Linked DNA regions of Homo sapiens. The protein of the gene in region 1 interacts with the protein of each later gene in a pairwise test. Each region holds a gene or a part of one and is shown in the gene's direction. Other genes may lie near its edges.

Evidence for each region.
Region 2: the proteins of TMEM140 (region 1) and MILR1 interact in binary tests that used the Homo sapiens proteins (3 or more experiments, as listed by UniProt).
Region 3: the proteins of TMEM140 (region 1) and FNDC9 interact in binary tests that used the Homo sapiens proteins (3 or more experiments, as listed by UniProt).
Region 4: the proteins of TMEM140 (region 1) and SPACA1 interact in binary tests that used the Homo sapiens proteins (3 or more experiments, as listed by UniProt).

What each region holds. Positions count from the first base shown.
Region 1 is NC_000007.14:135,151,052-135,158,078, forward strand, and holds part of TMEM140 (transmembrane protein 140), read left to right. Parts: intron 1-7,027.
Region 2 is NC_000017.11:64,459,098-64,466,124, forward strand, and holds part of MILR1 (allergin-1 isoform Allergin-1L precursor), read left to right. Parts: intron 1-1,724; coding exon 1,725-1,835; intron 1,836-6,354; coding exon 6,355-6,444; intron 6,445-7,027. UniProt on the Homo sapiens protein: Immunoglobulin-like receptor which plays an inhibitory role in degranulation of mast cells. Negatively regulates IgE-mediated mast cell activation and suppresses the type I immediate hypersensitivity reaction.
Region 3 is NC_000005.10:157,342,671-157,349,710, reverse strand, and holds the start of FNDC9 (fibronectin type III domain-containing protein 9), read left to right. Parts: upstream 1-4,033; 5' UTR 4,034-4,170; intron 4,171-6,167; 5' UTR 6,168-6,174; coding exon 6,175-6,849; 3' UTR 6,850-7,040.
Region 4 is NC_000006.12:88,043,648-88,050,851, forward strand, and holds the start of SPACA1 (sperm acrosome membrane-associated protein 1 precursor), read left to right. Parts: upstream 1-4,193; 5' UTR 4,194-4,258; coding exon 4,259-4,466; intron 4,467-7,204. UniProt on the Homo sapiens protein: Plays a role in acrosome formation and establishment of normal sperm morphology during spermatogenesis. Important for male fertility.

The sequences.
Region 1 (7,027 bases):
CATCTGGGTGCCTGGACTCATGCTTCTGACTTTATGTTATAATCTCATGGTATAGTCCTATTTTGTCTGATAAAGCTGTTTTATTTACATGGAATAATTAAGTAAATCAAAACATCACAGCATTCATTAAAAACTTGGTGGTTGGGATGGCTGTCCACAGAAAACACTGGTGAAATCCAGGAGCTGCCACCACCTACACACTGTTGAAAAACACTGCAGTAGCCCTGTTTTGAAAAGAATTAGAACCTGGACTCATGTTTCTACCAAAGGAAATATGACACATTTCCCTTTCTTCTTCCCTTTTTATTTTTGTGACAGCCACACCTAAACCATGAGCACACTGATCTTCAATGTGTTCCACCAGAAATATTTTAGCCAGGACTGGTGGCCTCTGACAAGTAAACCTGCGCCCTTGTTCTATGCCCTGGCAAGCTCTGTTGCCCCGGCTTTATTCTGCTAACATTTTCTTCCCAGTTCTCCTCTCTCCATTCAGGCGACACACCCAACCATGTCTACCTGACTCTCCGTCAATTCCCGTTTCTCCCACTGAGCTATTGCTTCAGCATCATGACCAGAGCAGACACATTGACCCAGTTTGTGTCAGGCCCCAAGCCCTCTATATGTGAGTGAACTTCCTTCAGTCTCACAACAGCCCATGAGGAACGTGACAACTGATGCATTACAGATGAGGATGTGAGGCTCAGGCTGGCTATGTAACTTGCCCAAGGTCATATGACTAGTGAGTGACAGAACGACGACATGCTCCCAGGTCATCTGGCTCTAAAACCCATGCTCCTTACCACCACACTGTGCTACCTCTCAACAGGCAGCTGCATCCTGGAGTCATCACAACCAAACATAAATGAGACCAGCTTCCTAGAGTTCATCTCTGGGAATGAACCCTGGCACTATTTGTCTTCCTAGAATCTCACCACTGTCAGGCTGGTAGCCTGGGCTTAACTTCTCTGAGCCTCAGTTTTCTCTCTATCGTAGTAATAATTTAAATAATACTTACCAGGTCATGTTCTAAATGCCATGCACAAATTACTTCATTTAATTTCCATAACATCTACAAAATAAGTTATATAATTAAAGCCATTTTACAGATGAAAAATCTAGGCAGAAGGATGTTAAGTAACTAAGGTCACACAGCTGGTGAATGGAAGAGCAGAGTCTTGAACCCAGAAGCCATAGCTTCAAGGTCCATGCTCAGAACCAGTATTCCACACTGTCTTCACTACGTCAAATGGGAACAGTGATAATAACATCCACACAAGGGTGTTGTGAAGATTAAATGAGTTAATGCACGTAAAGGGCCAGGCCCCCAGTTAGAGGTAGATCCTCATGGTGATTAACAATGCAGCCTGACAGGCTCCATCATTCACTGGCTGTGTGAACTTGGGCAAGTTACTGACCCTTACTAGGCCTGTCTTCTTCTCTGGAAAATGAAGATGAAAACAGTAACTCTACCCTACATGGTTGTAAGAAATTAATAAGACAATACCTGTTAAGTGCTTAGCACAGGGCCTGGCATATAGTAAATTCTCAAGAGATTTTGAGGTCTGTTTTTAATTATTAATAAGTTCTCACTAAAGTTAGATTCCTTCTCAGACACCTTCCACTGATCAAAGAGTCTCATCAAAGCAAGTTCTTCCCTCCCTGGTCCCCTTTGGCTTTCTGAAATCATTAATTAAAAGAAAGGCCCTAGGAACCTAATGGCTTACCTGTTTTTTCTTTTAATATTCTACTCCGCAAAATTTGCAAAGTGTGTAATGTTTAACAGCAGCAAAATTAAAACATGTAAGTTCCATGCGGCAGTCCTCAAGGCCATGATAGCAACTGCTGCTGGTGGTGCCCGATGGGGAAGGGGCTGCCAAACTATGCATCTGACCAAGGACTAATATCCAGAATCTACAAGAACACAAACAACTCAACAAGAAAAAACAATCCCATTAAAAAGTGGGTAAAGGACATAAACAGACATTTTCCAAAGGAAGACATACAAGTGGCCAAGAAACATATGAAAAATGCTCAACATCACTAATCACCAGATAAATGCAAATTAAAACCACAATGAGATACTATCTTACACCAGTCAGAATGACCATTATTAAAAAGTCTAGGCAGGGCATGGTGGCTCATGCCTGTAATCTCAGCACCTTCAGAGGCCAAGGTGGGCAGATCACGAGATCAGGAGATCGAGACCATCCTGGCCAACATGGTGAAACCCTGTCTCTACTAAAAATACAAAAATTAGCTGGGCATGGTGTCACGCACCTGTAGTCCTAGCTACTCGGGAGGCTGAGGCAGAAGAATTGCTTGAACCTGGGAGGCAGAGGTTGCAGTGAGCTGAGATCATGCCACTGCACTCCAGCCTGGGCAACACAGCAAGACTCCATCTCCACAAAAAAAAAAAAAAAAAAAAGTCTAAAAACTCTAAAAACAGCAGATGTCGTCAAGGATGTGGAGAAAAGGGAATGCTTATACATTGTTGGTGGGAATGTAAATTAATACAACTTTTAGGGAAAACAGTATGGAGATTTCTCAAAGAACTGAAAAACCACGCAATCCAGCAACCTGGGGTATCATATTTATTGATTTGCATATGTTGAACCATCCTTGCATCCCTGCAATAAATCCCATCTGATCATAGTGTATTATCTTTTTGATGTGCCATTGGATTTGATTTACTAGTATTTTGTTGAGGATTTTTGCATCTACGTTCACAGGGATATTGGTCTGTGTTTTCATTTTCTGCTGTGTCCTTGTCTGGTTTTTAGTATCAGGGTGACCCTGGCCTCGGAGAATCAGTTAGGGAGAATTCCTTTCTCCTTGATTTTTTAATAGTTTCAGGATTATTGGTATTAGTTTTTCTTTGTATGTTTGGTAGAATTTGGCTGTGAATACATCTAGTCTTAAGCTTTCTTGGGAGTTTTTTATTATTGATTCAATCTCACTACTCATTATTGGTCTGTTTAGAAGTTCTATTTCTTCCTGGTTCAATCTTGGGGGATTTTGTGTTTCCAGGGATGTATCTATTTCCTCTAGTTTTTCTAGTTTGTGAGCATGCAGTTGTTCATAATAGTCCTTGATGATCTTTTGCATTTCTATGGTATCAGTTGTAATGTCTTTTTCATTTCTGATTGTGTTTATTTGGATCTTCTTTCTTCTTGGTTAATCTAGCTAGTGGTTTATCAATTTTGTCTATCTTTTCAAATAATCAGCTTTTACTTTCATTGATCCCAAGAACTAATATATGAACTTTTAGTTTCATTGATCCTTTGTAAATTTTTTGTCCCTGTTTCATTTAGTTCTGCTCTGATCTTTATTTTTTCTTTTCTGCTAACTTTGGATTTGGTTTGTTCCTTTTCTAATTCCTTGAGGTGCAATGTTAGGTTGTTAATTTGTGATCTTTCTACTTTTTTGATGTAGGCATTTAATGCTATAAACTTCCCTCTTAGCACTTCTTTTGCTGTAACCTGCAGGATTTAGTACAATGTGTTTTTGCATTCATTTCAAAGATGTTTTTAATTTGTCTTAATTTCTTCATTGACCCAGTAGTTGTTCAGGAGCATGCTGTTTAATTTCCATTATCTGTATAGTTTCCAAAGTTCCTCTTGGTATTGATTTCTAGTTTTATTCCACTGTGGTCTGAGAAGATACTTGATATAATTTCAATTTTTAAAAAGTTTGTTAAAACTTCTTTTGTGGCCTTACATGTGATCTATCTTGGAGAATGTTCCATGTGCTGACAAAAATAATGTATATTCTGTAGTTGTTGGGTAGAATGTTTTATAAGTCCATTTGGTCTAAAGTTCAATTTAAGTACAATGTTTCTTTGTTAATTTTCTGTCCCAATGATCTGTCTAGTGTTGTGAGTGGAGTGTTAAAAGTCCCCTACAGTTATTGTATTGCTGTCTACCTCTTTCTTTAGTGATATTTGTTTTGTTAATCTGGGTGCTTCAATGTTGGGTACATATATATTTAGGACTATTATATCGTCTTGCTGAATTTATCCCTACATCATTATACAATGACCTTATCTTTTTTCTTACTATTTTTAATTTAAAGTCATCTGTTTTATCAGATATAAGTATAGCTATGCCTGCTTGCTTTTGGTTTATAATTACATGGAATATCTTTTTCCACCCCTTTGTTTTCAGTCTATATGTCTTTATGGGTAAGGTTAGTTTCTTGTAAGCAGCATGGATCATGTTTTTTCATCCACTCTGCCAATCTGTATCTTTTAAGTGGAGCATTTAATCCATTTACATTCAAGGTTAATATGGATCTGTGAGACTTTGTTTCTGTTATATTGTTTATTGTTTTCAGGTTGTTTTATAGACTCTTTGTCTTTGCCTTTTTGACTTTGTGTTTTGATGAAACTCTGTCATGTTGCCATTTGATTCCTTTCTCTTCCTTTGTATGATTGTTTTATACAAACTATGAGTTTTATACTTCTGTATGTTTTTGTGATGGTGAATATCAACCTTTTGGCTGGGCATCGTGGCTCATGCCTTTAATCCCAGTGCTTTGGGATGCTAGGCAGGGGGATTAATTGATGCCAGGCAGGGGCATTAATTGATGGAAGGTGGTCAAGACCAACCGGGGCAAAATAGCAAGATCTTGTCTCTACAAAAAAATTAAAAATTAACCGGGCATGGTGGCACATGTCTGTATTTCTAGCTACTCAAAAGGCTGAGGCAGGAAGATTGCTTGAGCCCACGAGGTCAAGGCTGCAATGAACTGTGATTGCACTACTGTATTCCAGGTTGAGTGACAAAGCAAGACCCTCTATCAAAAATAATTAATTAAAAACACCATTCATTTCAGTGTTTAAGATCCTTTTGAGCATTTCCTGTAGTACCAGTCTAGTGGTGACAAATTCCCTCAGCATTTGCTTGTATGGGAAGGACTTTATTTCTCCTTTTATAAAGCTTATTCTGGCAGGATACAAAATTCTTGGCTGACAGACACACTGTTTTTTTTTTTCCCTTTAGCACTTTGAAAATGCCATCCCATTGTTTTCTGGCATGTAAGAATTCTGCTGAAAAGTCCTCAATTGGTCTGATGAGATTTGGGATTTCCTTTATAGGTGACTAGTCACTTTTGCTAATTTTAAAATTCTTTCTTTCACTTGACTTCAGACATTTTGAATATGCCATGGTGAGGTCCTTTTGCAATGTATTTTCCTGGGGATCACTGGGCCTCCTGTATCTGGATGTCTATTTCTTTAAATATGTTTTCTAAACTTTCTAATCTCTCTTCCCCCTCAGAAATACCAATAATTCATAAGTTCAGTTGCTTCTTGCAGTCCCAGACATCTCAAAGGCTTTATTCATTCTTTTTTATCCTTTTTTCCTCATTTTTGTCTGACTGGATTATTTCAAAAGTCCTGTCTTCGAGTTCTGAGATTCTTTCTTCTGCTTGGTGTAGTCTACTGTTGAAGTTTTTGAGCATATGGTGTATTTCCTTCAATGAATTTTTTAGTTCCAGAATTTCTGCTTGTTTTTATTTAAGATGTCTATCTCCTTGATAAATTTCTCATTTATATCCTGGATTAATTTTCTGATTTCTTTGTATTAGTTTTCAGATTTCTCTTGCACTTCATTGAGCTTCTTTAAAATCAATATTTTGAATTCTTTATCTAGCATTTTGAAGAATTCTCTTTGATTGGGATCTGCTGCTGCTGGACAGCTGTTGTGGTTCTTTGATGATTGTTACGGTTTGACTGTGTCCCCACCCAAATCTCAACTTGAATTGTAGCTCCCATAATTCCCACATGTTGTGAGAGGGGACGCCAGGGGAGGTAACTGAATCATGGGGGCTGGTCTTTCCCATGCTATTCTCGTGATAGTGAATAAGTCTCATGAGAACCGATGGGTTCATCAGGGTTTCTGCTTTTGCTTCCTCCTCATTTTCTCTTGCCACCACCATATAAGAAGTGTGTTTCACCTCCTGCCAGGATTCTGAGGCCTCCCTAGCCATGTGGAACTGTAAGTCCAATTAAACCTCTTTTTCTTCCCAGTCTCAGGTATGTCTTTATCAGCAGTGTGAAAATGGACTAATACAATGGTGTCATGTTTCTCTGCTTTTACATGTTTCCTGTATCCTTCCATTGATTTCTTTGCGTCTGGTGTAGCAGTTGCTTGTTCCAATTTTTTGAAATTGCTTTTATAAGGGAGAATTTTTTCCTGAGGATATATGCATGTTGTTAAGATGCTTTGACTTTGATTTTGGATGCCTGCAGTCGTGTGATCTTTCTATGACTTCTTCGGCATAGGGTCAGTGTTCTCTGTGATTTCCTCAGTGGGATAGAGTATGGTAATTAGCTGAGACTAAGTCCCCAGAAGTTTAGCTGGGACTTGGATGCCAACTGAGCAGCCTTTGGACCCCAGTGGTGGCAACAGTGGGGTAAGTGTGCCCTTTTTAGGCCCCACAGCAGCTTACGCTGCTCTGGTGGTTAGTGGGTCTTGGAGGGCTGATTCTTGGGCCTCCACATGGCTTGCTTAGAAGCTAGTAGTGGGAGTGGTGAGCCCAGTGTGTGGGCATGATCTCTAGCCCCTGAGCAGGTGGTGTCATGTGAGTGATGGCAGTAGCACTGTTGAAGCAGCCAACTGGGATCCAAGCAGTCCATGTTGGTGTTGCTGGAAGCTGTGATGGGTTGGGTGAGCTACTCCCCAGTCTCACAGCCACCTGTAGCAGGGTGGTGGGCACTGTTCTAAGTGTGCTTAGGAGAGCTTGGTCTTCCCTGTCCCTTTCCTACCAGGGTGGCAGCTGCAGCCACATTGCCTGATTGTTAATTCAGACTGGTTATGAATCAGCATTAAACTCTCAAAATGGTGCCAGCTGTGGGCTTGTGAACAGAGAAGGTGGGGCCCCTATCAGGTGAGCAGCATGGTCAAGAAGCTGTAGGGAGGGTGGTCTACTTGAGTCTCGGTCTCACAGCAACCCGTAGCAGGCACTGGGTATTGTCCTAGGTATGTGCGGGAGAGCATAGATTCCTTGTTTCTCCTTGACTGGGCAG
Region 2 (7,027 bases), on another chromosome or scaffold:
CCAGGTCCTTCTGAAGGTGCATTTGTCAAGGTAGGAGGATAGAAGGAAAACTAGGTCGTGTGCAGTGGCTCACACCTGTAATTCCAGCATTTTGGAAGGTTGTGGCTGGCAGATCACTTGAGCCCAGGAGTTTGAGACCAGCCTGGGTAACATGGCAAAACCCCTGTCTCTACAGAAAATAAAAAAATTAGCCGGGTGTGGTGGTGCATGCCTGTGGTCTCAGCTACTCAGAGGATGAGGTAGGAGGATTGCTTGAGCCTGAGAGGTCGAGGCTGCAGTGAGCTGTGATCATCGTGCCCTGCATTCCAGCCTGCGTAACAGAGCGAGACCCTGTCTCAAAGAAAAAAGAAAAAGAAAAAGAAAGAAAAGAAAAACTAGGTTAGCAAAGGCACAAGGCACACTTGGACATTGACCACTTCACCCAGCCAGGTCCTCAGAACAGAGCCCACGCCCTGGTATTCAGTGAGTGTGGTCTAACAAGTGAGGCAGCCTGCTGGAGTCAGGCACTTGGCTATGAGTCACAGCCCTTCCATTCACTGGCTGTGTGACCTTAGGAAAGTCATTTCACCTCCCTGAGCCTTACTCACCTCATCTATAAAATGGGAGTGATGCCAATGGGATAAATAAGGCAACACAGGTGAAGTGCCTAACACAGTGTCTGGCCTGCAGCTAAAACTCAACAACTGGCAGTTGTTTGGATGACACGAAACATGCTGCCAGGGCTCAGGGCCTTGCCCAGTAAACACCCAGGCTTTTCTGGTGCTCATGACCCCAGAAATGTTGCTGGTATTCGTCCTGTTAAATTCTGTGCTGCTTTTCTCTTCTTTGGGTGGCCCCTGTGGAAGATGTGCTTGGTCATGACTTTTTAAACTTTATTATTTTTATTTTATTTTATTTTATTTATTTATTTATTTATTTATTTATTTATTTATTTATTTATTTATTTATTTGAGATGGAGTCTCACTCACCCAGTCTGGAGTGCAATGGCACGATCTCGGCTCATTGCAACCTCCGCCTCCTGGGTTCAAGCGATTCTCATGCCTCAGCCTCCCAAGTAGCTGGAAATACAGGCACGCGCCACCAGGCCCAGCTAATTTTTATATTTTGGGTAGAGACAGGGTTTCACCATGTTGGCCAGGCTGGTCTCAAACTCCTGACCTCAGGTGATCTACCTGCCTTGGCCTCCCAGAGTGCTAGGATTACAGGTGTAAGCCACTGAGCTCAACCTATTTTTGTTTATTTATTAACTTATTTATAGAGACAGGGTCTGGTTCTGTCCCTCAGGCTGGAGTGCAGTGGCACAATCATAGCTCACTGCAGTCTCCACCTCCCGGGCTCAAGCGATCACCCTGCCTCAGCCTCCTGAGTAGCTGGGATCATAGGCACATGCCATCACACCTGGCTAATTTTTATTTATTTATTTATTTTGTAGAAACAGGGCCTCACTATGTTGCCCAGGCCGGTCTCAAACTCCTGGCCTCAGGCAATCCTCCCACCTTGATCTCCGAAAGTGCTGGGATTACAGGTGTGAGCCACCACGCCCAGTCAAGAACTTTATTGACTAATAAGTCCCGTGAGTTTTAGATGTCATGACCATTTGGGAACCTGGGTGCATAGTACATTGGTTAACTTGGGAGACATCACCTTTTCTAAAACACTTACTGGCTTAATGTCATTGGAAAAGAAAATGCTATGGTCACCAATGGATGCGGTCTTCTTCCAGGCGGAGACAGCTGTCCTTTCTGTCTGAAGCTACTACTTCCAGGGTTATTACTGTTGCTGGTGGTGATAATCCTAATTCTGGCTTTTTGGGTACTGCCCAAATACAAAACAAGTAAGTTCTTTTAGTCGCTTTACCACCCGTTTTCCCGTGGGCTTGGGATACAGACAGCAGGACAGAGGGTGAGGAGAAAGAGAAAAGGGGATTGGAAATAGAATAGGGAGAAAATGAAAATAGGAGGAAAACATGAGAAAGGGGGGCGGGAATGGAATAGACTTCCTGAACGGTTCATGCAGAGGGTAATTCTTTCTCCAGGGAAAGCCTTTTCTGTTTGAGGGCAAGCAGAGCTGGCTTCACAGACGTACAGCCTGTGCTGTCACACAGGGCCCTGTGCCAAGAAGAACTCCACATTTGGTATTTGTTTATTTATTTATTTATTTATTTTTGAGACAGAGTTTTGCTCTTGTTCCCCAGGCTGGAGTGCAGTGGTACGATCTCGGCTCACTGCAGCTTCCGCCTCCTGGGTTCAAGCAATTCTCCTGCCTCAGCCTCCCAAGAAGCTGGGATTACAGGTTTCCGCCACCATACCCAGCTAATTTTTTGTATTTTTAGTAGAGACAGGGTTTCACCATGTTGGCCAGGCTGGTCCCGAACTCCCAGCCTCAGGTGATCCACCTGCCTCAGTTTCCCAAAGTGCTGGGATTACAGGTGTGAGCCACTGCTCCCGGCTGCATCTTGAAATTCTTCATAATTTTTTGTACGCTCTTTTAAAAATTGTTAATGGTGGTAAAATATACATAACACTAAATGGGCCACTTTAACCTGCTTAAATGCATAGTTCGGTGGCATTAAGCACGTTCCCATTGTCATGCACCCTTCTCCACCATCCATGTCCAGAACTTTTTCATCTTCCCAAACTGAAACTCTGTCCCCATTACACACTAGCTCCCCATCCCCTCTTCCCCCGGGCTCTGCCAACCACCATTCTGCTTTCTATCTCCATTAGTTTGACTCCTCTAGGCACCTCATGGAAGTGGAAGCATTTATCCTTTCATAACTGGCTTATTTCACTTCGATTAATGTCCTCAAGGTTCATCCATGTTGTCATATGTGTCAGAATTTCCTTCCTTGATAAGACTGAAGAATGTCCCATTGTACATAAATACGCCACACTTTGTTTATCCATTTATCCCCCATGGGTACCCGGGTTGCTTCCACCTTTTGTCTATTGTTTAATAATGCTAGGAACGTGGGTGTGAAATTATTAATGTTTTTAAACAAGAGGCCCTTTTCCTCGTATGACTGCTTGTGAAAGATGTACTCGGTCCTGACTTTAAGAACTTGTGTTCCTTTTTTTCTCTCTCTCTCTCTTCTTTTTTTATTCTATATTAAATGGAGACGGGGCCTCACTATGTTGCCCAGGCTGGTCTCGAACACTTGGGCTCAAACAATCCTCCCACCTCGGCCTCCCACAGTGTTGGGATTATAGGCGTGAGCCACTGTGCCGGGCCAAGAACTTGTGTTCTTAATTAAACACAAGTTTAAGGCCTGTGAACAGTGTTCATTTCGCACTGGGCGCTGCAAGTGGTGCGGCTGCTCCTGACTGCAAGTGCCTCAAGCGAGAGCTTTGCCTTGAGTGACTCTAGATCTGCCACATACGTAGGGGAGGTTCAGTGCATGAGGACAAACAAGCGTCATCCCATTAGCACAAAAGACACCTTCAAAAGGTTTACAATTGTTTGGGGCTGGAAGTATTGAAAATATTAGGTTGGTGCATAAGTAATTGCAATTTTTGCCATACTTTTATGGCAAAACCCACAATTACTTTTTTTTTTTTTTTGAAATGGAGTCTCGCTCTGTTGCCCAGGCTGGAGTGCAGTGGTGCAATCTCGGCTCACAGCAGCCTCTGTCTCCCTGGTTCAAGCGATTCTCCTGCCTCAGCCTCCTGAGTAGCTGGGATTACAGGCACCCACCACCATGTATTTTTAGTAAAGACAGGGTTTCACCATGTTGGTCAGGTTGGTCTTGAACTCCTGACCTCAGGTGATCTGCTCGCCTCAGCCTCCCAAAGTGCTGGGATTACAGATGTGAGCCATTACGCCCGGCCCACAGTTACTTTTGCACCAACCTAATATATACATATTTTTTATTTCTACATTTCTATGCTTTCTAGATTTTCAATGTAGAAGTATAATCTATTCTACTATAAGATTTTTTAAAAAACTTTATTAAACACACCAGACTCAAAAAAACAAAAACAGAAACAAAAAAGCATCATTTCTCTCTTCCCCACCTTAAGTGCTACATCCAGCAGAAAACTTGTCAATGTTATTAGAAGCCTCAGTTACAGCTTTTTTAAAAAAATGTTTTTTAGAGACGGGGTCTCACTGTGTTGCCTAGGCTGGTCTTGAACTCCTGGACTCAGGCGATCCTCCCACCTCAGCCTCCCAAAGTGCTGGGATTACAGGCATGAGCCACTGCACTCAGCCCAGTTACTGCTTTTCATTCCTCACGTCTTATGGCCACCACTGGTTAAGCCTTCAAAGTGGTTTTTTCATTTGGTACACGAGTGCAGAAGGATATGAAGATTTACACAAAAGACAGTTTGGGTCTCAGCACTGGCCCCCATCAGCAAGCTGAGGGCTGTTGGACAAGCCCCTCAGGCTGTTGCTTCTGAGCCTCAGTGTTCTGAGTTGTGGAATGGGCCATGGAGATATTGTCAGAACTGGCAAGAGAACCAATTGAGAACCATCTCCAGAGAGTCACAACTCAGAGAAGTCAGGGACTCAGTTGACATAAAACTTGAACACAGAGGTCACAAGTTATACATCTGATGCATCTTTAAGATTTTATTTTATTTCATTTCTTTTTTTTAGAGATGGGGCTTCACTGTGTTGCCCAGGCTGGAGTGCAGTGGTGCCACCATAGCTCACTGTAACCTCCCACCTTAGCCTCCCTAGTAGCTGGGAATACAGGTATGCACCACAACTCCTGGCTAATTTTTTTTTTTTTTTTTTTTTTTTGAGGCAGAGTCTCGCTCTGTTGCCCAGGCTGGAGTGCAGTGGCACAATCTCCGCTCACTGCAACCTCTGCCTCCCAGGTTCAAGCGTTTCTCCTGCCTCAGCATCCTGAGTAGCTGGGATTACAGGCGCCCACCACCACGCTAGGCTAATTTTTGTATTTTTAGTAGAGATGGGGTTTCACTATGTTGGCCAGGCTGGTCTTGAACTTCTGACCTCGTGATCCGCCCACCGCGGCCTCCCAAAGTGCTGGGGCTGGTGAGCCACCGCGCCTGACATTTTTTTTTTTTTTTTTTTTTTTGAGACAGGATCTCACTTCCATCACCCAAGGCTGGAGTGCGGTGGTGCAATCATGGCTCACTGCAGCCTTGACCTCCCAGGCCTCCTCCTGCCTCAGCTACCTGAGTAGTTGGGACCACAGGCGCGCACCACCATGCCTGGCTAATTTTTTTTTTTTTTGTAGGTTTCACCATGTTTCCCAGGCTAGTCTTGAACTCCTGGACTCAAACCATCCTCCTGCCTCAGCCTCCCAAAGTGCTGGGATTACAGTTTTTTGTTTTTTTTTTAATTACAAAATTCTTTTTAGAGACAAGGTCTCACTATGTTCCCCAGGGTGGTCTTGAATTCCTGGCTTCAAGTGATCCTCCCACCTCAGCTTCCCAAAGCACTGGGATTACAGGCGTGAGCCACTGCACCCTGGCCCACATCTCATATGTCTTAAAAACATGTTTCTCCTTCTTATAAAAAGTCCAGGTTCTTGCAAAAGTGGCATTAATATTTTTGATTACTGGCTGGAGCTACAATAGAATTCAGTGAGGCTGGCCGGGCACAGTGGCTCATGCCTGTAGTCCCAGCACTTTGATCACCTGAAGTCTGGAGTTTGAGACCAGCCTGGCTAACATGGTGAAGCCCCGCCTCTACTAAAAATACAAAAAATTAGCCAGGCATTGTGGCACATGCCTGTAATCCCAGCTATTCAGGAGGCTGAGGCAGGAGAATCGCTTGAAACCAGGATGCGGAGGTTGCGGTGAGCGGAGATTGCACCATGGCACTCCAGCCTGGGCAACAGAGCAAGACTCCGTCTCAAAAAAATACAAAAATTAGCTGGGCATGGTGGTGCACAACTGTAATCCCAGCTACTCGGGAGGCTGAGGCAGGAAAATCGCTTGAAACCAGGATGCGGAGGTTGCGGTGAGCCGAGATCACGATAGTGCCACTGCACTCCAGCCCAGGCGACAGAGCGAGACTCCATCTTAAAAAAAAAGAATTCAATAGGCCATTTACACTCTCTTGAAGATATTACAAAGCTTCCACAGACTATTCTCTTCAGCGAAGGAAAGAAAATAAGTCTGGCTAGTTCAGGCATAATCTGATAGGCAAAGCATGTTCCTCTGAAGGCCAGGAAAATAAATCAGAACAGCCCCTGGCTTGGAGGAGCGGTGTCTAGACTCCCTGTTGAGTCTATAGTTTTCCTTTGTTAGACAACAGTTTGGGCCATTGGAGCAAGTCACTCTCTGTTTCAGAACTTTGAGGGAATTCTGCTCCTTGGCCGAGGAGATGAGAAAAATGTGGCTGAATTGGTTTAATTTGATGATTCCTACCTATTTACGTAGGAAAAGCTATGAGAAATAATGTGCCCAGGGACCGTGGAGACACAGCCATGGAAGTTGGAATCTATGCAAATATCCTTGAAAAACAAGCAAGTAAGAGAACTTTGTTGCGTGTTTTGGGTGGTTTCAGGTTTTTGTCTTTTTATTTTGTTAAGGTTGTACAGACATACGGGAGTGGGGGGTGGAGCAAAAGGGATAGAGTTCAATGTCTATTGATGCCCAGTCCCACTTTCTAGGGGTAATAACCAGTTTTTTAAATCCTTCCACAGATATTCTGTGTGTATAATAAACAAATGGTAGTGATTGTAGCATATTGTAGGTATGACTTTCTACACCATGATTTTGTTTTTTTTTCATGTAACAACGTATCTTGGAGATTTTTCACATCTGTTCAGAATGATCCACACTGTGTTTCACAGTCTTTCACGGTCACCTCTCAAAGCAGGCATTGCATATTGCTTTGCAGTAAACAAGACCCAGCGCCTCGGCTGATGTATTAGTCCATTCTCATGCTACTATAAGGACATACCTGAGATGGGGTAGTTTATAAAGGAAAGAGGTTTAATTGACCCACAGTTCCGCAGGGCTTGGGAGGCCTCGGGAGACTTACAATCATGGTGGAAGGGGAAGCAAACACATCCTTCTTCCCAAGGCGGTAGGAGAGAGAAGAATGAGA
Region 3 (7,040 bases), on another chromosome or scaffold:
AAATATAATGGAAAAGAGTGTGGAAATTCCTTTAAGAACTAAAAGTGAGAACTACCATTTGATCCAGCAATCCCACTACTGGGTATCTACCCAGAGGAAAGGAAATCATTCGAAAAGGATATTGCACACGCATGTTTATAGCAGCACAATTCGCAATTGCAAAAATATGGAACCAGCCCAATGCCCACTAATCAATGAGTGGATAAAGAAAATGTGGCATGTATACATCATGGAATACTACTCAGCCATAAAAAGCAATGAAATAACGGCATTTGCAGCAACCTGGATGGAGTTGGAGACCATTATTCTAAGTCAAGTAACTCGGGAATGGAAAACCAAACATGATTATGTTCTCACTTGAGTGGGAGCTAAGCTATGAGGACAGAAAGGCATTAAGAATGATACAATGAATTTTGGAGACTCAGAAGGGTGGGAGGAGGGAGAGGGATAAAAGACTACACATTGGGCATAGCGTATACTGCTCGTATGATGGGTGCACCAAAATCTCAGAAATCACCACTAAAGAATTAATCTACGTAACCAAAAACCACCTGTTCCCCCAAAATTTATTGAAATAAAAAAAACTGAAATAAGTAAATAAATAAATAAATACATAAAGTGAGGGAATTTGGCCAGGTGCGGTGGCTAATGCCTGTAGTCCCAGTACTTTGGGAGGCCAAGGTGGGTGGATTGCTTGAGCCCAGGAGTTCGAGACCAGTCTGGGCAACACGGTGTGGGGAGGATGCTTTTTTTTTTTTTTTGAGATGAAGTCTTCCACTGTCGCCCAGGCTGGAGTGCAGTGGTGCGATCTTGGTTCACTGCAATGGCAGGGTGCTTTTATGCTCTGTGGGGACTCACCACTAGCTCTTGGGAAGAGGCATGCTGTATGCATTGCTGCAGATTTAAGACAGGCCCCTGGGAAGACTGAATGCCATGGGAAAGCCGCAGAGCAACTATCTGATCTCATATCTACTAAAAATACAAAAATTAGCCAGGTGAGGCGGGGGGCAGTGGCTCACGCCTGTAATCCCAGTACTTTGGGAGGCTGAGGTGGGTGGATCACCTGAGGTCAGAAGTTCAAGACCAGCCTGGCCAACATGGTGAAACTCCGTCTCTACTAAAAATACAAAAATTAGCTGGGCATGGTGGTGCACACCTGTAGTCCCAGGTACTCGGGAGGCTGAGGCAGGAGAATCACTGGAACCCGGGAGGCAGAGGTTGCAGTGAGCCGCAATTTTGCCACTGCATTCCAGCCTGGGCAACAGAGTGAGACTCCAGCTCAAAAATAATAATAATTAGCCAGGGGTGGTAGTGCACACCTGTAGTCCTAGCTACTTGAGGGGGCTGAGGCAGGAGGATCTCCTGAGCCTTGGGAGGTCAAGGCTGCAGTGAGCCATGACTGTGCCACTGCACTCCAGCCTGGGAATTCCAGGGCGTGCTCTGTGAGCCACTCACTTTCCCCATGTGCCAATCCAGCTTTGGGACTGGGGCTTGCCCCATATTATCCCTTCACTGCCACCTTCAGGAAGGGTGGAAGAACCTTGCTCCTAGCTGATTTCCTCTAGCAGTAATTTACTACTGATGTCAACTAGCTGGGGCTCACCTGGCCTGAGAGCGAAGAGGCTACAACTTGCACAGACTCTGGAGGAATTGTCCCTGATGATGGAGAAAGTGTGAGCCTGGCTGGGGTGTAATGTCCTGGGGCAGGTGTCCCAGATACTTTATCTCCTTCACAAACGGCTGCACTGGCTCCTCTGGGTGCTGCTGGTGAGCGGCGACAGCTCAGAGGAGCGGGATGAACCCTGGCCTCCGCCTCCGAGTCTGGGGCCCCACCCCATTTCACTGGCAGCTCTGCCACTCATCAGTCAAGCGGTCTGAGGAATGCCATGTCTTCTCCCAGGACTGTGAAACAAGAGGGCTTGGAGGCCTCACATTCTCTGAGTATCTTAATTCCACAGTGGAAAATTTCTCTTGGTTAAAAATGTCATCCAAGAATATTAAAAATAAATTCCAATTTTCTGTGGAAAAAGGCTTGAGTTCTACCTTGTTCCTCCTCAGACCCCTTAACTCTGGTATTTTTACTCCCCGCAAAATAACCTTTTCAAAGGGCATCTGCAAACAGCTGCGTGGCCTTTCTGTGGGGAGGATGCTTTTATGCTCCGTGGGGACTCACCATTAGCACTTGACCTGGCTGTGCTCGCATGGGAAGAGACATGCTGCATGCATTGCTGCAGATTTAAGACAGGCGCCTGGGAAGACTGAATGCCATGGGCAAGCTGCAGAGCAACTTTCTGATCAAGGAACACTGGCTTGTTCCCGAGTTCCCAAGACTCCAAGCCTCCCGGAGACCTTTGGCCAAGGGTAGGGTCACAACTCACCAAGGCGGCTCTTTTTTTTTTTTTTTTCCAAGGGAAAAAGTCTTTCTATAATACCCAGGCTGGTCTGGAACTCTTAAGCTCAAGTGATCCTCCCACCTCAGCCTCCCAAGTGGCTGGGACTACAGGTGCACACCACTGCAGCTGTGCCTGGCTTTCTTCCTAACCTTTTATCATTAATGTGAATCAGAAAGAGACCTTCATGGGTTAACTTGGATACTTTGGCCAAGAACCAAGAAGAGAAAAGCTGACTTTTAAAAACATATAATGTGTATAAATTTATTCAGGTCTACATCTATCTGAGCTACTTTCCACCCTCTATTCCAGACACACCCTGTGATCTCAATAGAATGGTGGCAATGGGTTCTTACAAGGTTGAAAGGAACAGGAAGGGATGGAACCTCAAAGCCAGACGGCCCTTTATGAGAAAAGGGGAGGCAAGCAGTCTGGATTCTTGAAAGGAAAGGAACGCTGGGGATGATTCAATCCAGGAGTAGCAAACAGTTTCCATTTCTGGCGTCAACTCCAACTGATTGATTGGGAAGCAGTTTCTTGGGACGCTTGTGTTCAGAGGAACTCTGGGGCTGTTTCTGCACCCAGCTGGAAGCAGTGCTGCATTAGATTCCTAGGGTTGCTATCACAAATTACCATAAATGTGGCAGCTTAACATGACAGAAATTTATTCTCTCACAGTTCTGGAGACCAGAAGCCTGAAATCAAGGCTCTCGCAGAACCATGCCCTCTCCAAGGCTCTAGGGGAGAATGTTTCCTTGCCTTCCCAGCTGCTGATGGCTCCCGGTGTTCCTTGGCTGATGGCAGCATCCTTCCACTCTCTGCCTCTGTTTTCCCTTGGCTTCTTCCCCTTGAGTCTCTCTGTCTTTTCTCTTACAAAGACATTAGTCATTGGATTTAGGGCTCACCCTTAAATCCAGGAAGATTTCATCTTGAGATCCTTAACTAGTTATATCTACGAAGGCTCTATTTCTAAATCAGGTCACATCCTAAGGTTCTGGATGGATATGTATTTTGGGGGGGCATTATTCAACCCAGTGAGAGTGCCATGATGGTTTAGCAAGCTTGACAGGGGTTCAGGGCTGTGCAGGGATAGGGCTCAGGTCTTCTGCCTTCTGATCTGCCATCCTGATGTAGCCCAAGCCCACAGCTTTACAGATGATGGTGGAACTGAGACTCAGACAATAAAAATAAAAGGGTCTTGACCAGTACCATATAACTATGTAATGGCACATGAGTCAAGAATAAAGAAAGATGAAGATAAAGAGGTGGGGTAGGCAGTTGGGATGGGGAAGTGTAGGGGTGGGAGGGGATGAAGATGAATATTACTGCTTTGGTTGTGGAATAACTGAGAAAAGCATCTTTGCATTTAAAACCATTGGCCAAAGAGGATCTAGATGGGACAAGAAAATAATAATCAGCCAACTGGGGAGAAAATGTAGGAGTGTTAGAAGAATTAGTACTGCACTGGGGACCAGTTTTCAGGGGATCATCTGCCCTTTTTCAGCCAAAGGAATGAGAGCTCCTCTCACTGGGCAAAAGCCTTTCCAGGCTGGTCCCTGAAAGCATCGTGCGTACAGATGCCTGCTGGTTGCCATGGTGAATGATGCTGATCTGAAGAAATGAATAATGTGAGCATTAGGGGCGGCAGTGGGATTACTCAGTGTTGAGAGAAACAACACGGAAAGCCCAGAGCAGAGGAGGGAGAAGGCCCCATTCTCTCAGCTTTAATCTACTGCACCTCGGAGGGCAGAGCTCTAACCAGACACGCTGCAAGCATCAGGTAAGACATATAGATGGCTCTTCTTGGAAATGGAAATGGCTTCTTTTCACACTCTGCTTGGAGAAGGGCCGGGCAAATGAATAGTTAAAAATAGGGGAGAATTTAGAAACGGAAACAGAGGAAGAAAAATCAATAAGGGAGACGGACCTGGTCCTAAAAGGTGAGGATGCTATTTGCGTCTTGACAGAAAGCTCTTAAAAATGTCTGCTGAGGTAATTCCATCTGTACAGACAGCTAGTGGCAGATAGGAAGCCAAGAGAACATTTGTGCGTGACAAGAAACAGGATTCCTGATTACTCCTGATGGAAAGGTTTTACACAGGTGGCTGCCTATAATGAATTAAGCTCTTTTCATCGTGGTCGAAAGTGTATTTATAGTGATGTGTGGTGTGGGGAGGATGAGTGTGTAGAGGACACCAAGCTAGGAAACATAAACATTCGGTCTCCTTCATGATGACCTTCCCTGGAAGGGTCTGAGCACATCCGTCTCATCCCTTTCGTTCCCTATTTACTGGGAAGAAATATTCAGCCACATAGAAAGACACTATTCACCTTCCTGAGTATCTTAGTTCACTGTTACCCTTACAGAAGAAAAACAAGGATTAAGAAACTACTCAATGCTGTGCACCTTTCTGCAGCTCCACTCCTGGAGGAAAATGGGCACAAACACAAGAGGATGGGGGAAAGCAGAGGTGAGAGAAAGGCAGGTCATAATAGCCATTGGTTTGGCTTAATATCCAATGCAGGCGAAAATCCAGTTGACAGCTGTTTACTATGTCACTGCAACCCAAAATGAAACCTACGGGGTTTCATGTGAGGGAGGAGAGGCGGAAGACAAAGCAGGGTGAGACTGTTATGTGAATATGCGTAGGCTGACTATGACTGTCTCTGTATTTCTGATCAGGGGCAATCAGTAGAGGGAACTGCATGAGAGAAACTAAAATACTTGAAGATGGCTCTCTCTTATCAAAGCGGGGCCTGGCAATCTAAAGAGGGCTCATTTGATTTGTCTGGAAAAACAGCAACTGGGTCTCAGTCCTGGCACCTCATTTTGCGATAACGTCTGTAACTAAACCCGGCAGCCTTGCATTAGGAAATGTAGTGGTTAGGCGGCACTAAGTCCTTTTTCTACGTATTAGCGGTGTGACATCAGGTTGCTCATCCGTAAAATGGGAATCTAGCTCAGAGGATGTGATGAAGAATAAAGGAAATTAATTACTGCCTGTGAATCATCTAGCATGACAAGTGACATAGCAACCACTTACTGTGAGTGGTTATTACCATGATTAACATTCATAATAACAGCAGAATTAAATAGTGGTAGTTATGCTGATATTAGGGGCTGATTATCTTCACCCATAAAATAAATTTCCTGGTACCGCTGGCTTTGAAAAAACAAACAAACAAAACAAGAGCAGAAGCTTTGGGGTGAGATCAGCTGCCAAAGAGTGACGAAGCGAATTTCCACTCACCATGGGCAACAGAACCAGGAGGCTAAAAAAAGCAGTGGGCAGAATGTTCTAGATCACTGAGCTCACAGTACTTGGAGCAGAAACAGGAGGTCAAGAAGGAAAATTGAGGTGAATCAATTGCCTGAGGGGAGGTCACAGACCTGAGAATAAAGGTGGAGCCTCTGAGGTTCTACTGATTTCTCCTTACCTTTTCTTCTTTTTTCTTAAGGGGATGAGAACAATCCCCTTAAGAAAATCCCCTTTGTTATCTGAAGGATCTCAGCTAGGGTGGGATGTGGCTGGGATTGCATGGGTGCATCTGTTCTTAGGCCTGAACTTTGGCATGGGACAGCCCCAGTTTTAACTTTTGTCCTGCCACTTTTTCGCTATGCCTAAATAACAGAACCTCTCGGCCTCCATTTCTTTGTCTGTAAGATGAGGGCAACATGAGTGCCCGTCTCAAATGTGCAATAAATGGTGGCTATGATTATGATAAATACATACTTAAATCAGGGGATGTCACTCTTCACTTTGATTCTGGTTCCAGAATCGGGATGAACATCGAGGTGGGGAACATTTCTTATACAGGAGCCATCATCTCCTGGTCGTCCTCGGAGCCCTGCCTGGAGGACTATTACCATATTATGTACAGGCCCAACTGGAACAGCATCTTCTCTGGCTATCTTCGCTACAGCTTCCACCACGAGGAGAAGGTGCCTCGAACGATCAGCTCCGTGGTGCTGGAACATCTTGCCCCTTCCACTCTCTACTTCCTGTGCATCAGCTGTAAGAAGGCTGCCTTCCCTTACAGGCACTACTGCACCATGTTCCACACCCTGGATAAGAGTCCGCTGGCTCCTGGAAGCTCCCTGGTAGACCCCCAGATCTCCCTTTGGGTGCTGATGGCCATTCTGCTGGCCTGCTTCACAGCCGTCTTGGCCTTCATCTGCCTCCAGTTCTGGTGTGTCCGTTGCCATGAGCCGCGATGGTCTTACAGGGCTGGCCACATGGAGGAGGCCAATGGGTTGGTGAGATGGCCAGAGGAGGCCCCGGATCTTGGTCAGAGGGAGGAAGACCTGCAGGGGCTCCCCCTGGTGGAAATGCCACGCAAGAACTCCAGAGATGGAGCTGAACTGGATCCCGAAGCCAACCAGGATGCCCCTGATGCGGGTGCCTTACAGAGGGGGGGTGGTGACCCACCCGCTATACTGCCTCATTGTGGGGAATGAGAGTGGGGAGGAGAGCGCCCGCATCATGTAGCCTAAAGCTTTCCACACAGTAGGTCGTTTGTACAAATGTGTCTATAGACTACCCATTTCTCTCCCATCAAACGTCACTGCTATTGTAGGTCACCTGGGTTGGATGAATGCCCCATGACAAAGCTTCTCAAGCTGGAAAATGTATCCCCCAGGGTATGCCA
Region 4 (7,204 bases), on another chromosome or scaffold:
CCATAAAGGTTGTACTAATTTACATTCCCACCAACAGTGTGTAAGGGTTCCCTTTACACTGCATCCATGCCAATATCTACTGTTTTTTGATTTTTAAATAATGGTCATTCTGGCTGAGGTAAAGTAGTATCTCATTGTGATTTTAAGTTGCACTTCTTTACTTTAGATGTGTGCAGCTTATTGTATGGCCTATGTCTCAATAATGCTATTTTAAAAAATCTTATTTTGGAAGAAAATCTTTACTCACACCTCAAAGTAACTAGAGAATTTTTAAGGTGAGTACCTATGAGTTTTGGGAAGTACAACTTGTATTTTTACCTGCTTCCAAAGCACTCTTCCCCAGAATGCCTGTCCTGTGTTATTAGACGGTTGAAAGTAAAATTAAAATCCTAAGATAATTTAGGTGCATCTGATGTTTAGTGGTTCCATGCAAGAATTCCTAAAGACTCTAAAGATATCCAGTTCTGAGATTCTCCTTAATCTACATGTGTGAAAAGTGTAAAAGCTCTGGTATAATTGTGCTGTATATGTCAAAAGGTAGTAGACTTTTATATAGCTTGTTAATAAATATCCTGAAACCATGGGAGTTGTAACACACTGTACAGTTTGTGCTGTGGTGGTGGTACAGAGTAGAGTTAGATGGAGAAACTGTAAATTTGAGACTCTGGGGGAAACTTTGAGTTCAGAAATTAGGACAATTCAGGCTTGTCACCAGGGAATCCATGTTTAGAAAGCAGGGTAAGGGACACATCTATTTTAGGAGTATTAGGGAGACAAAATAGGAAAGCAGTTGAGTTTGGAGTGGGAGTCGGTAGAGAAGTAGTGAAATGGGACAGTGGGATAGATCTTGTTCCTCAGTAACCAAGGGAAATGAGAGAACTTGTTCTTACCATGGACTCAAAAGTAAAAAAAAAAAAAACAAAAGATATGATCACAAAAGCTGTGGGGCAAACTCAATGATATAGGTACATTCTAAAATTCTGTTTCATGTATTAATCTGGGCACATGTAGCTGAGTGAGGCTGTGCATCTATAACCTGAATAACTACAGATAGGAGACCTTATTCAATCTTAGAAAATGTGGTTTACACAGCCCTGCAAATAGAGGAATATGAAAGTACCATATGCTTTCTATCAAGACTTATTCACAATGTGATACTTATTCCTGTCACAAATGCCAACCACATTGCTCTAGAATATTATTTAATTTTCAATGGCTTTTAAAATTCTTCTTATTAAAATAGAACATCTTATGGGTACCACTCTTCCCTTAACACATGGAAATTCTTATTGGCTTAAGAAGACCTTCAGTGAGGTAGGGCCTTTGTAGGCAGTTACATTTTATTGAGAGGATACAGTCCAACCATTTGAAGCTGCTATTCCTATATTCAAAAATCCAGGGGGGTTCCTACAGCTTTTTAATTTTTTATGCCTATATTTTTCCTGCAGTAGGTTTCCTACAGTTTCTACCACAAAATTCCCACATTGTGTAGCAATACAGTTTTAAGTGATGGACACAGAATAAGGACACAACAGAGGTAAGGGTGTGAGACAAAAGAGCCAGGGGAGAAATCCTGCCTCTGGGATCTTGCTCCAAAAGAGAAACCTCTTCTCCCCTAAAGGTTAGAAATATCACCCAGAGAGAACCTTCTCTCTGGGGGATTACTATGGAGAAGGCTTTTTACCAAATCAAGCATATTAAAGCCAAAATCGATTTTATCTCACAGATAATGATTTTCACAAATATCACTGTAAAGTTTCTAATGTTATAGCAGTACTTAGAACATTGTATTAACTGAATGTGTGTGTGTGTGTGTGTATTTTTTCATGCTCGTGGCGTGTATCAGTGATTTTCATCTTCTTTTTTGGTATGTGGTCATCTCAAGCTGCCCAACGAATGTTTTCACTTGACTTCTGTTGATACCTCCAACTTAACCTTTAAACAAAATGTCTACTGACTTTCCTAATTCCCTTTATTTGCTCCCTCCCTCACTCCCTTATCCTGCTTAGGCAGCCAGTCATTCCATTTTGTTAATCCTTCCTTTGTTATTTCTCTCACATTCATTTCTCTTTTCATTTTTATGGTAATCCTTTATTTAGGCCTTGATTATCTTGTGCTTATATCACACATACACAAATTGGTCTTCCTTTTCAGAATACAAATTGGTCTTCAAGGGTAGGTAGTGCAGAGACTGGATAGAGGAATGATTTTCCCACATACCAAATGAGGCCAAGCAAGGTAAGGTCAGACCAAGATAGGTGAGCTATGTTTGGGCAGAGTGGGGCAGAGGAGTTTGGGCTCTAATCCCCACCTCTTGGAAATTGGAGATGGGGGTGGAGATGCTTAGTTCCAGGCAGGATGAGGTGGGTCAGAGGAGCATATCAGGGATCCAGGGTGGAATTCCTGCTCCTTAGTATCTGCAGGTTAGAGTAGGGTCAGTCCCTCTAGATTCTGTGCCCTGCCCTTCTGGCTAAACACTTATCTTTCATTTATTTGTGGCTAGAGAGAGTACTAGAGAGACAGTAAAAGTTTGTTGAGGACAGATATTATACTTTTTCTTATAACTTACATGCGTGACATGGTATTTTATAGGTGATTTATAATGCTGCTATTAGAGATATTAATAGTCTTTATTTCAGAGTTAAATCTTTCAGGTCCTCTTTGAGACCCATCTGGCTCCCTTTGGAGATGATTATTTGTTAGATTATTAATGTTTCCTTGAGTCAAATTACATATTTTAGAGTTTATGGGACTTCCTCTGCTAAAAAAGGATACTATCTTCAGGAAGCAATGGATCCTAAAATTGACTTTGAAACACTCAACAATTTGCCAGCAACAATACTATATATCATCTTTTTAAAGTTTGTGTTTGACGGCATAATTTTTGACTTATTTCTCTCAGGATTCAAAAAAGAAAAATTTTGACTCATTTAGCCATGAAACAAAGGCCTTTACTTCTCAAGATCAAATCTAAGTTTTCCATGTTAACGTCCCTCATAATCTTGTCAAGCGCTATATTTTAAGGTATTTTAATTGACATAAATGTTCCCGAGACTTCTCACCAATACCAATTTGAACTTTAACACTGAAGGTGTTTAGCAGTCCTTGTATTTTCAAAATTAGAAGCCTTTGCAGGAGAAAATATTCAAATACAAAATTTCAACTTCTGCTTCAAACAACCTATTTTGTTACAAATAAGTGTTTCTGAAGAACCTCTTAATACTTTTCTGTTACCCCCCTTATCTGTTAGTCTGCTGAGACTAGATATTCAAATATTCCAAAAGCCAGAGTGTATGCAAGTTCACTTTCATCTCACTTGTCATAGGAATTTAAACATTAAGCCTCAAAGTATGGCACCCTATATGTCTTTTCAAAAACAACAACAAACAACCACATTGTGACTACTAGATGAGGTAAAATTTGTAATAACAGAATCAAAAAAGTCAACCCTAACTTTTCAGCGCTTGAACTCCCAATCACCCCCACTAAAGGCTTCTTCGTTAACCTTGAATCATAAGAATCACTGATCATCGAGTAAGTAAGTGTTCGGGAGATATGACTGTGAGATCCAGCTTTGTAAATAATTTCTGGATTTTTGGGGCGAGTCATTTCATCTCTCTGATTCTTAATCTCTTCACTTAAAAATGAGGGACTTGGAGTATCAGATGATTTCTAAATTTCTTCTTACTCAAAGTCTATTATTCTGATCCCAAAGAAGAAATCGAATCCTTCTCAATACATCCCAAATTGGATATTCTGGATAAGAAATTTTGAAACCAAGTCACACGAAGAGTATGTGAGGGATAAGAAGTCTAGTTTGGGGAAGGGTAAACATTATGTACGAAAAAGAAATGTCTTAAAAGAAAGCAGGCAGGGTGAGCGAGGAGGCTGAAGAGTCGCTCCATAAACTGAGGCAGAAGGAGCAGCCGACAGCAACGCCTACCGCACCCGGAAGGCTCAAGGAGGCGCCCTGGGCAGGGAACTTCCGGTTGCGGGGAAGGGCGGCGTCCTCTCCTAGGGACTTGTCGCACGCGGCTTCTCGTCGCGTTCCGTCTTGCACGCCTCGCAGCCTAGCTCCGCGCGAGTTCCAGGCGCTCAGCACCGGAGCAGCGCCCCGGCAACCATTGAGGCGTCACGGTTCGTCACGGGATTCGGAGCCGGGCGGCTACGGGCGGGGTGTCGCAGCTCTCTTCGACGTACCTGTCCTCAGGAGCCGCGGCGGCGACTGCGCCTCGGACGGCCGTCGGGGCCGAGAACCATGAGCCCCAGGGGCACGGGCTGCTCCGCCGGGCTGCTGATGACTGTCGGCTGGCTGCTTCTGGCGGGCCTCCAGTCCGCGCGCGGGACCAACGTCACCGCTGCCGTCCAGGATGCCGGCCTGGCCCACGAAGGCGAGGGCGAGGAGGAGACCGAAAACAACGACAGCGAGACCGCGGAGAACTACGCTCCGCCTGAAACCGAGGATGGTGAGGGCGGGAGCTCCCTTGCGGGGCACGCGGAGGCCCCTGTTGACGGAGCAAAGGCCTGCTCTTTGCCTGAGAACCATAATTATGTGTGTTAACGTCAGGAGAGCTCTCTCTCATACTTCAGCCCCGAGTTTGTCCCTTTCTTGCATCCTGTGGCCTTGAAGAAGAATGTGCTCATTCTCCCAGGCCACAGCAAGATACACAGATAAGCACGTATATAGAAATTGCTATAGAAACACTTCTAAATATTGCTTTGGACAAGGAAAAAGATTTTTTTTCAGGGTGGGAGGTAGCCTTCCAACAAGAGGAATCATTTTGACTCCTCTTGCAGTCACTTTCCCTTCTCATAGTAGATTTTTTTTTTCAAGTTCCAAGTTGCTTGATTTCCACATTTGCACTTGGGGTTGCAATGGAATTCAGAATCCCCCTTTACGACGATACACCCAGATAGACCAGTATGCCGACAAAACTGCCCAGAAGCCCCATGGCAGCTTCCTGCAGCTCCTAGCCTTGAGCACCTCTGCATTGTGGTGTTTGATTGGTATGTGCGGCCTCGGACAAAGGAATGGAGCAGTAGAAAACACCTGTCAAGGGATCCAGCTAGTGGCTTTGTTAGATGCTACATATTAACCAAGGAACAATGAGCCCCCCGCTTGGTACATACATTTGCTTTTTTTTCTGCTGGCTCATTAAGCAATAAAACTTGACAGGCTGTTGTACATGTCATATTGATTAGTAACTCACATTCTAGCAGGTAGAAGGTCAGCAGCAGGTTTGCTGCCTTCTCAAGAAAGATTATTCCTTTCCCTTCTAAATGACCCAGCTGCAATTCTTTTAATATTGTTTGCATTCTCATATCTCTTCAGTCTATACATATCGAGTGACTGCTGTGTCTACCAGCCTTTCTTTCATTTCCTGATAGTGATCCTCAGCACCAACAGAAAGAAATGAACTGTCTGAGGTTAACAGTGGGATCGAGGTTTGCACGGCCTTGTAACATTATACTACAGAGAGCTTAAAAAGATCCTTGACTTCGGAAATGTGAAAAAGAAAGATGACTAGGAAAGAAGAGAACACGTCCTAAAGCATAGTAGCTATTGCTTCATTCTCTTCTTTAAAGTAATTGAATTAACAATTTTAGTATTAAACTGGCCAAGAAATACTTCTAGCTATAAAATGCTAAATATTATTTAGGCTAAACTCAGGCAATAAAGTTATAATGTCTTACCTTCAAATTAAAATGTAGGTTAGTTACTTATTCTCTGAGTCACAGTTTCCTCATCTACGGACTTCAAGGAATCCATGTACTTTGTGGGATTTTAATACATACTATTTCATGCATAAGTGCTTTTTCTTGGGGAGCGAGAGAATCCAAAACTTTAAACAATCTGAGGTGTTATAGGTCTGAAAATTTCCAGAACCATTATTGAAATTTGCACTGTCCCCTTAACCCTCAGTGGATCAGTAGAAACAGTTATCCCCATTTACTATCCAGTGGACCTTTAATTTTTTTTTAGTCATTTAAAAATAATTTACAAATAAGAATAAAGGGATAGTGAAAACAACTGTGTTAGAAATTTCAAGAAGAATTTAAACATGGAAAAATTCAAATTTTTATTCCATATATCCTAGTTTTGAAGGTGTATGTACTCTAACTGGGCAAAGTACTTTGAATGCAACTAAGTGCTCAACTGTTAAGCATGAACCTGGAATGCATTCATCATGTTAATACTGATTCCAGATTTTGAGTGCATCGTTAATAAATTCTAGCTTATCATTAATCTTGGTTCTTTTTGCACTTGTATTGTCAAAAAAACCAACACTTTTGAAAACTACAAAGGCATATATTTTGTTGAAGAGAAAGCCATCTTCTTTTCTTCATAATTGGAAAATATTTTCATCTTTAGATTTATAAACACCAATTAGAATGATTGGTCCAATGAATTTTACTCATTTCTACATAATCTTTTCTTTCAGTCACCTTTATATACATATCTTTCATCACAATATGTTCATTTACAAACCTTGGCAAATAAATGTTGGTGCATAAACGTTATAAAAAGGGAAAGAATACCGTCCTCATCCTTTTAGCGAAACAGTATGGCACAAGTTATTGTCACAGTATATTTCAGGATTAAATCTTTCCTGTTGTCAGGCTAACTACATGATAATACCATATATTCTTTTCATCCCCAGAAATATAATGTTTACTCATCAATTCTTAAGTTAGAGAAAATTCATCTAGTATATTCATCCAAGATAATCATCATCTCTCATTGAGATTTTGCTTATACAATCAATTTCATCATCATCATTAGCATCCAAAGTGCTGTTATCTGTCTCTTTTCATCTTCTGATTCGTTCAATAATTGTGAAATGTTTTTCTCTGTCAGTTTTCTTCTCTTTGCCATTATGGGCAAAAAATGAAAAATTGTGAAATCTCAACTGTGTTCAATAAAAGCCAAAAATAGACTACAAGGAGGATACCTCTAGACTTCTTTTGTATCTTCTTGAAAGATGATGCAATATCTTGGGCAAAGCAATATGAAAACATGGGATGTTGTAAAATAGCTTGTGTTAGTGTAATTCTTTCACCATTACATTATTTTTCTAGGCAATTCCAATCATTCTTTCATTTTTAAATTTTAGTCATTTAAAAATGTAGTTGAAAATAATGAGCAATACCATCATTATGGATGATGAAATATCACAATGTTTCAAGATAAAGAAAAATCATT